Linked DNA regions of Homo sapiens: regions 1 and 2 are each linked to region 3. The links come from fine-mapping of genetic effects on gene expression. A gene starts in region 3. Each other region holds a variant in brackets. All regions are shown on one strand. Distances are from middle to middle.

Region 1 (2,764 bases), 24 kb before region 3:
CTGGGATTACAGATGTGAGTCCCCATGCTCAGCCTCAGAAAACTCATTTCAGAAAAATTACCCTCATTAACCAGAAAGAAAACAAGCCAGACTTACTCCTTAAGTGCCTATAGACCAAATGATGTGCACTGGTTTCAGTGACAGACAATTAAATTCATTTTTAAAAAGGGCAAGAGGTTTTATATTTCAAGTCCTAGAAATCATAGATCTCTTTGGATAAACTCAAAATTACTTTGGGTCCACTCTGAGCAGGACACTGATTATAATACTAGAATTCATCACTATGTTGATTTTAGACATTAAAAAAATGATACTTATAAAGCAGGGATGTCCAATCTTTTGGTTCCCTGGGCCTCATTTGAAGAACAAGAATTGTCTTGGGCCACACATAAAATATACTAACAATAGCTGATGAACTAAAAAAAAAAAAAAAAATCATGAAAAAAATCTCATGATGATTTAAGAAAGTTTGCAAATTTGTGTTGGGCTTCATTCAAAATCATCCTGGGCCACATGCCAACCAGGGCCACAGGTTGGACAAGCTTGTTATAAAGCATAGCTAAAATTAAAAAGCAATGATTAATCACAGCATCTACTAAATGGTTACACCACAAACAAACAAAAACAAAATTCAATACCTTTTCTTTTATTGTTTCTTGAGTAAAAATGGCTTTCTTCCTTTCTTGTTCAACTTTCATTCTTTCCATTTCTAACTGACTATTCAACAATGTCTAATAGAGAGAAATAAAGTTAGACAATTTCTGTGATAGTAATTCATGCCATGATAAGTCAATCTCAAAGTTAGAAGCATAAAGTATAAACTCATATTTGTTTTCCTACTAAAGACCAAGTTCCAAAAGCAGTGGCATCACCCATTTCATCTTGTTATCTCATTAATTTGCTGCCATCCCCAACCATTCTCTAATGTATGCCCTAAGAGCTGAGTGGTCACGAAGAGAAATACCTTTTCTTTCCTCGTCTCTTCAAGTGTTCTTACATATTCATCTTTTAGGTTTTCCAATTCAACCTGGTACCTATTAAACAAGGCAGAATTTAAAAAAACAGAAAATGAAAAAGATGCTAGTATAGACTATTAAAAACTCAGTACTTTATTAACTCCAGCTACATATTGAGAAATCATTTTTATTACCAGCTTGACATCAGTGATTTTCCAACAGTGTGTTCCAGATCCCATCTGAGTTTCACTCAGAAACCAAACCAAAAGTGAAAAAGCTCCACTTCTGTGCATTTTATTTATTGGTGCTCTGGGTTAAGATTTCATTTAAAAAGAGACTTTATAAAAATAATTTTGAGTACCATCATCCTATAATATGCTCAGATTCCACAAAGCTTATTAGGGAGTTCTATGAAAATGTTTCTAAAAGTTCAGATATTTTACTTTAGAAATCATTTTTACTTGACATTTTTTTAAAAAGTAAAATTTCCAAGGAAGAACAGAGG[GT/G]TAAAAAATACTAACCATTGCCTTAATATAATCTCAGATAGATGGATTTTACACCCCATGGTTTCCAAGAACCCAGAAATTTATTTAGAAAAGACTTAAATTATACTACTAAAATCCTTGTAATATAAAAGTAACTCCAAAGAGTAGTCTCAAAACTATTTTGTGGTGTTATAGGCCCCTTTAAAAAATCTGATTAAAGGTACAAATCCTTTCCCTGGAAAAAAAAATAAATACAAAACATGCCACACAATCTCAACAATCTACATGACAATGAATCCCAGTACTATCTTCTTGTTATAATATCCTATTACTTTATTTATTTTTTTTTTTTTGGAGACGGAGTCTCGCTCTGCTGCCCGGGCTGGGGTGCAATGGTGCAATCTCACTGCAACCTCTGCCTCCCAGGTTCAAGCAATTCTCCTGCCTCAGCCTCCCGAGTAGCTGGAATTACAGGCGTCTGCCACCATGCCTGGCTAATTTTTGTATTTTTAGTAGACACAGGGTTTCACCATGTTGGCCAGGCTGGTCTTGAACTCCTAACCTCAGGTGATCCACCTGCCTCAGCCTCCCAAAGTGCTGGATAACAGGCATGAGCCACAGCACCCGGCCATAATATCCTATTACTAATAACCCTAACTTTAAATGCTAAAAGTGATTACATTTAGTTCTTGGTACCCTGAAGCTAAAAGCCAACGACATACTTTGTTTATTTACTTATTTAATTTATTTTTTTTTTTTTGAGACCGAGTCTCACTCTGTCACCCAGGCTGGAGTGCAGTGGTGGGATCTTGGCTCACTGCAACTTCCGCCTCCCGGGTGTAAGCGATTCTCATGCCTCAGCCTCCGAGCTGCTGGGATTACAGGCGCACACCATCACACCTGGCTAATTTTATTTTTAGGAGAGAGTAGGTTTCGCCATGTTGGCCAGGCTGGTCTCCACCTCCTGACCTCAAGTGATCCGCCCGCCTTGGCCTCCCAATGTGCTGGGATTACAGGCGTGAGCCACGGCGCCCGGCCCAACAACATACTTTTAAAAAGTGCTTTAGGATGTCACGGAACTACCAAAAATATCACTCAGAAACCATGCTCACCTATTGTTCTCATCCTCCAGTTTACACAGCCTATTTTTCTCTGATTCTAGCTGGGCTTGAAATCTACTGTTTTCCTGTCTTAAAAGAGAATTCTGTGACTCCATGGAAGACATCTGAATTTTGTTAGCAAGGAGTTCTTCTGTAGCTGCACGTTCTCTCTCAACTGCTGCTGCCAGCAAGGTCTGGGATTCACCTGATTACAGGACAGAAA
Region 2 (2,764 bases), 26 kb after region 3:
TGATCCTCCCGCCTTGACCTCCCAAAGTGCTGGGATTACAGGCGTGAGCCACCTTACCTGGCCAACATCTCCTTTTGAATAAAGTGAGCGAAACTCACAAAACATGAGATAACACGAAAACATATAAAACTCTTAGAAAATTCCTTATCAGCAGAAATACAATCATTTAACAGAAGTAACAATCTTAAATTATCAGGCAAAAAAAAAAATTTAGAAGCACAAGAAAATATGGTGTGTTATCTAAAGAAAGACAGAATTAATACTTTCAATTCTTTTTCTTTTTTTTTTTTTTATTTTTAATGCTTTCAGTTCTGCCCAGCATTAAAGGAGAAAGTTATTCACATGAGACACTGGGCCAAACCAAGAGTTTGCACGTTAATTTATGGGAGTAACACAATATTTCTATTTCAAAATACTATCTTTTTATAAATACAAAAGCACATAAAGATGTGCTATACTTTTCCCTACCCTGTAATAAAAAAAAGTGACATATAAGTGAACACTTGCCTTAAGATAGACACTATCAGTCCAAAATTCTACGCCTCTATTATTTAGTACTTACATAATTCTTAACATGCAATTAATTATACTCAAAGCTAAGATGTTCATTCCAACTAAATTTCAAAATTTAAGTAAGCACACCTATACTCCTATCAAAATTAATTTCTCACAGTAGCACTACAAAAGGGGAGTATGTTTCAGAAAGCATTTTAAATTTTTACATGAGGTCATGAAGTTAGATTTTTCTCACAAAAATTTTCAACTTATATTACATGAGAAATGTTAAGACTCAAATATTCAAACAAAATCAGTTGTGAATATTCAATCTCATATTTTAAGAAAAATTTAGTTTCACAAAACAATTTTATTAGTATTTTCATTGTAAGAGCAAATTAAAAAAGAAGCATTCTATTAGTTTTGAAACATAAAACTATTAGAGCAGTTATTTAAAAATAAACGTTTCTCACTTCAGTGCTCGGTTCGAAATCAGGGTGTGTGAAGGGTCCAGATCGCTCGAGGAACTTCTTTACATGGTTCCAGCGACCTTCCCAGTCTCCAGTGTCCCCACACCCACCATCAACAGCCATTCTGCACAGAACACAGTAAATTCAGCTGCAAAGATCAGTATGAAAAAAACCACACCTACAACTA[T/C]TATGGTATCCCCAAATGAAAAGGTAACCACACCAGACCTGCTCAAATAAAAAGGAAAATATTCAATGTGATTATGTTTATGCTTTGAAATTTTTTCTTGCCTATTATACAATTCATTTAAAGTTAAGAACTGCACGTTTCTATTTTTATTTCACCCAATGGATGAAATAAATCAGTCTACATGTTTTTGGTTTCCTAAAGCAATCCAAGGTTCAACTTAGGATATTGGTCTATTATGTGAGAAATTGACTTCTCTACATTTGGTATTTACAAAAAAAACACTGCAAGCTTCCTCAATCTGTTGTTTCATCACACTTGCATTAGGAAATATGAGATACAACAGAGAAAAAAAGTCACACTTTCAGAATTCTGATGCTTATATGTCTGATGCAAATTTAATATTTATGTGTCCTTTCCAAAGGTGTAATCTAAAAATCACTTTGATGAGAGGAATTTTCACACACTTTTCTCAGAAATAAGGTTATTTTTTCTTTTTCTTTTTCTTTTTTTGTGACAGAGTCTCACTGTGTTGCCCAGGCTGGAGTGCAGTGGTGTGACTGCAGCTCACTGCAGCCTTGCCCTCCTGGGCTCAAGTGATTCTCCTGCCTCAGCCTCCCAAGTAGCTGTGCCTACAGGTACATGCCACCATACCCAGCCAATTTTTGTATTTTTAGTAGAGACGGGTTTCGCCATGTTGCACAGGCTGGTCTGAAACTCCTGAGCTCAAGTAATCCGTCCACCTCGGCCTCCCAAAGTGCTGGGATTACAGGCATGAGCCACCGAACCTGGCAGAGGTCTTAATTTTTTAAAGAATCTCTTAATGCTGTGGGACGGCTTTTCTTGCCACTAAACACAAAGTTTCAGATTACAATTACGCCACAGATAGACATCTACAAACCTTTTAGAACATACAACAGAATAAGGTGGGACTCCTCTACAAAATTCATCTATTTTATACTTAGTTAAGATTCACGTTTGGTTGTGATTATTTTTAATTTTCTAATTTCCTATAACTCCACAGTTTCTACCGTCAAATATATTAGTAATATCCAATTTTTACAAAAGGGACCAAGAAGTATTGCCTAGCAATAAAAACCATACGTTTTGATGTCAGAGTTGTGTTGGGTTCCACAATTAACAGCACTGTGACCTTGAGCAGATTACTTAATAGACATAAACCTCATCTGCAGGCCGTTCATAGCTACTTCTTTCAGCCATGAGGATATAGATAATCACACAGAAGACTCAGTACAGTACGTGGGATATGGTAAGCAATGTTTAATTGTGATTTCATGTAAAAGTGGGAGGGAAATAAAAGGCAGGAAAGAATGTGAAATTAAGTTTGTCATCCCGGTCCTCTTGCAGCTGAAATTCAACTGAGGGACACACATAAAGATCAAAGCACTGCTACTGGGAATCGGCACGGAAATTTACAAACTCACCATAACCAATGCAAGAGTATTTTTTCCCTGCCCAGGCAGGGAGGGGAGTAAATTATGTGGCGCTGGCCAGGTTAGAAAACACTTCGATTAAATCTGTCTCACCAGCATAGAATTAAGCATCTGATAAGAAATAGGGTGTGTAGTAAAAGGGATAAATAGGCTGTTTGAAG
Region 3 (2,764 bases):
ATGAAGATCCCTGAAAGATTAAGCTCAATGAAACTGCAAAGAGAGACTTGGCTATTCAGAAATAAAATGTGATACCATCCAGAAATCTTGGGTCACACATTTTCCGGCTAATACCTCCGGCACATTCTAATCCTCCTCCGCCGTGTGACCTAGAGCAAGTTACTTGGCCATTCTGGGCCTCATTTTCCTCTTATGTAAAACACGGATATAAACCAAGCTCTCTCTGGGAGTTGTTCTGAAGATGAGAAGGCCATAAAAAAGCACATTACAGGCTCGTGCCTGTAATCCCAGCACTTTAGGAGGCCGAGGTGGGTGGATCGCCTTAAGTCAGGAGTTCCACCAGCCTGGCCAACATAGTGAAACCCCGTCCCTACTAAAAATACAAAAAGTTGCCGGGCGTGGTGGTGGGCGCCTGTAATCCCAGCTACTAGGGAGGCTGGGGAAGGAGAATCGCTAGAACCTGGGAGGCGGAGGTTGCAGTGAGCCGAGATCGCGCCACTGCACTCCAGCCTGGGCGACGGAGTGAGACTCCGTCTCAACAACAACATAAAACCACATTACGCGCTACCAAGCGCGAAATGTTCACTGACTGTTAGCGATTGTTCTTCCCTTCCCTGATGATTTACGTACTTCAGACCTTGGATCCCAACAGTGCCCGAGACGCGAAGCAATTCGAGGTTCAGGTTCGGGAAGGTTGTGCTTGGAAGCTGCGTCGAGGGAGAGCTTGAGGGCAAGACCAACCAACCAAGTCCCCTGTCATCCAAGTCCACAAGCCTCGCACCCAGGACCAAAGAAAGACAAGGGGGAACCTGGATCTGGGTTTTCCCTCAGGAAAACAGCAAAGACCGACTTGGAGGCTGAAGCAGCATTAGGGAACGGGCCGGGGAGAAATTACTTCCTGAAAACTCTCTCAGCAAGGAAGGACCCCTCTCTACACCACTTAACCTGCCTGCATCAAGAGAACAGCAGCCTCCGGGAGCCAGGAACCCCGCTCCTCTCTCTCTTACCCGGCTCTCCATACGGAATGGTCTCGGCCCAGATGCTCGGCTCCTCTTCCTGGATGTCCAGAACCCTGTCAATAGACTTCTGGGCCTGGGACAGGGCCTGCTTAGCGAAGCTGGAGAGCTGGGAGGCGTTGAACCAACTCATCGCCCCTCCTCAGCCGGCAGTGGCGGCGGCAGCACCAAGCGGGAAGGCCTCAGGCCTGGGGAAGGGTGCAGAGGAACGGCTTCGCTCCCCTTTTCCACTCGGCTGGTTCTGTCAGCGTGTGGCCATTACCCCGACAGCCTCCCGCGAGCCCGGGATGTTACCCTCGGCCGTTCCCGCACAGCTGAGACGAAGGGGGCCCATGTGCGCATGCGCTTGCTTCTTCCACGTACACAGCAACCAAATCTACGAGCCCAGAGTTCGGTCGACAGACGGAAGAACAGAAGAACGTTGACGTCACATCCGGGAGCGCAGGGTTGCCGTTAGTTACCGAGGAACGCGGAAGGGTTTCTATTGATGTCGATTTCGTGCTTACAGCAGTTCTTAGCGAAGGGGAAGCTATGGCTACCGATAGAGGTCGATTTCCCCGGAAGGAATATTCAAGTTTTCGTGTGTGTGCTTTCCAGGAAAATAGTTCACGTGCTAAAAGCTTGCACCTTGCCAGCAATAATTGCAAAGGGAAATTGGGCCTCACACTTCTCTTAGCCCTTTGTCTCAAATATTTAATAAGCTCTGTATTAACTTGGTATTGTAAGGAGAAACACTTGTTTGGGCTTGCCTAAAAGACAGGATCACGTATGAACACTGTGTCCAACTCGTGGAACACATGGTGCATAAAGCACAACCTCTCTCTCAAAATAGTAGTAAACTCATTGCTGCAGTCAAAATACCCCTAATACTGTGGTCTGTCGGTGTCCCCTGCACAAATTCCTATGTTGAAACCTAATCTCCAATGGGACAGTATTAAGGGGAGCCTTTAGGAGATGATTAGATGATGATGGAGCCCTCATAAATGGGGTTAGTGCCCTTATAAGAGAGGCCCAAGGGAGCTCACGGCAAGAAGGCACCAACTCTAAGCCAGAATAGCAGCCCTCACCAGACACCAAATCTGCCGGCTCCTTATCTTGGACTTCTCAGCCTCTAGAACTGTTAAGAAACAAATTGCTACTGCTTATAAGCCACCCAGTTTATGGCAATTTGTTACAGCAGTCCAAATGGACTAAGACACCTAGGAAGCACTAAAGCTGTTATCCTAACAATGTGCACTGTGCATATTACTTAAAACATAACCTTTTCTGTGTGCATTCTCTTCGAACATTTGGACATGGGAAAATACCTTAAATTGGTGGCCTTCCTAATCCAGTCTGCAGCTATATTTGGTTTGGGCCCAAGTTAAAGACAAAATCCTAACTAAAAGCCAGATTTCATTCAAAAATCTAGATTTCCAGCTGCTTTTGAAAAATATGAATACCAAGCATGGGAATAGTCAGCCAGAGTGGTCACCAAATAATTTTCACTCACTCCAGTTTGCCACAGACCCCTATCACTCATCCTATTACACCCTCCCTGCTGTGATTATTTACCTTATATGCCTGCCTCCCATATTTGAATATTTTACCCCACTGCAAGGAACTCTGCAAAAAAGAATTATTTTTCTTTTAAAAAATCAGATTGAACCCCTTAAGAAGTTATAATCATCTTCCAATAATTTTATCTAACTACAGTAAAAACTTGCATGTTAAAACTAACAATTTAGTCATGTACACAAGTAGTACCA

What was found. PIP is the estimated chance that this variant, and not a neighbour inherited with it, causes the effect.
Region 1: its variant is the best candidate, but not a certain one, in a credible set for the expression of TMF1 in pancreas (GTEx, PIP 0.50).
Region 2: its variant is the best candidate, but not a certain one, in a credible set for the expression of TMF1 in breast (GTEx, PIP 0.65).

The regions. Positions count from the first base shown.
Region 1 is chr3:69,027,262-69,030,025 of GRCh38, forward strand. TMF1 (TATA element modulatory factor 1) reads right to left here. Exons shown (of 17, transcript NM_007114.3): 11 at 2,554-2,746; 12 at 965-1,034; 13 at 639-731. Among named protein-coding and RNA genes, the nearest start is that of EOGT, 15 kb to the left of the region's middle. The variant GT/G (reference allele first, on the strand shown) is at 1,462.
Region 2 is chr3:69,076,830-69,079,593 of GRCh38, forward strand. It overlaps UBA3 (ubiquitin like modifier activating enzyme 3), which reads right to left. Exons shown (of 18, transcript NM_003968.4): 3 at 969-1,089. Among named protein-coding and RNA genes, the nearest start is that of UBA3, 2.2 kb to the right of the region's middle. The variant T/C (reference allele first, on the strand shown) is at 1,153.
Region 3 is chr3:69,050,938-69,053,701 of GRCh38, forward strand. TMF1 (TATA element modulatory factor 1) reads right to left here and starts at 1,396. Exons shown (of 17, transcript NM_007114.3): 1 at 1,008-1,396. The coding sequence starts at 1,149. RefSeq lists an enhancer at 988-1,457.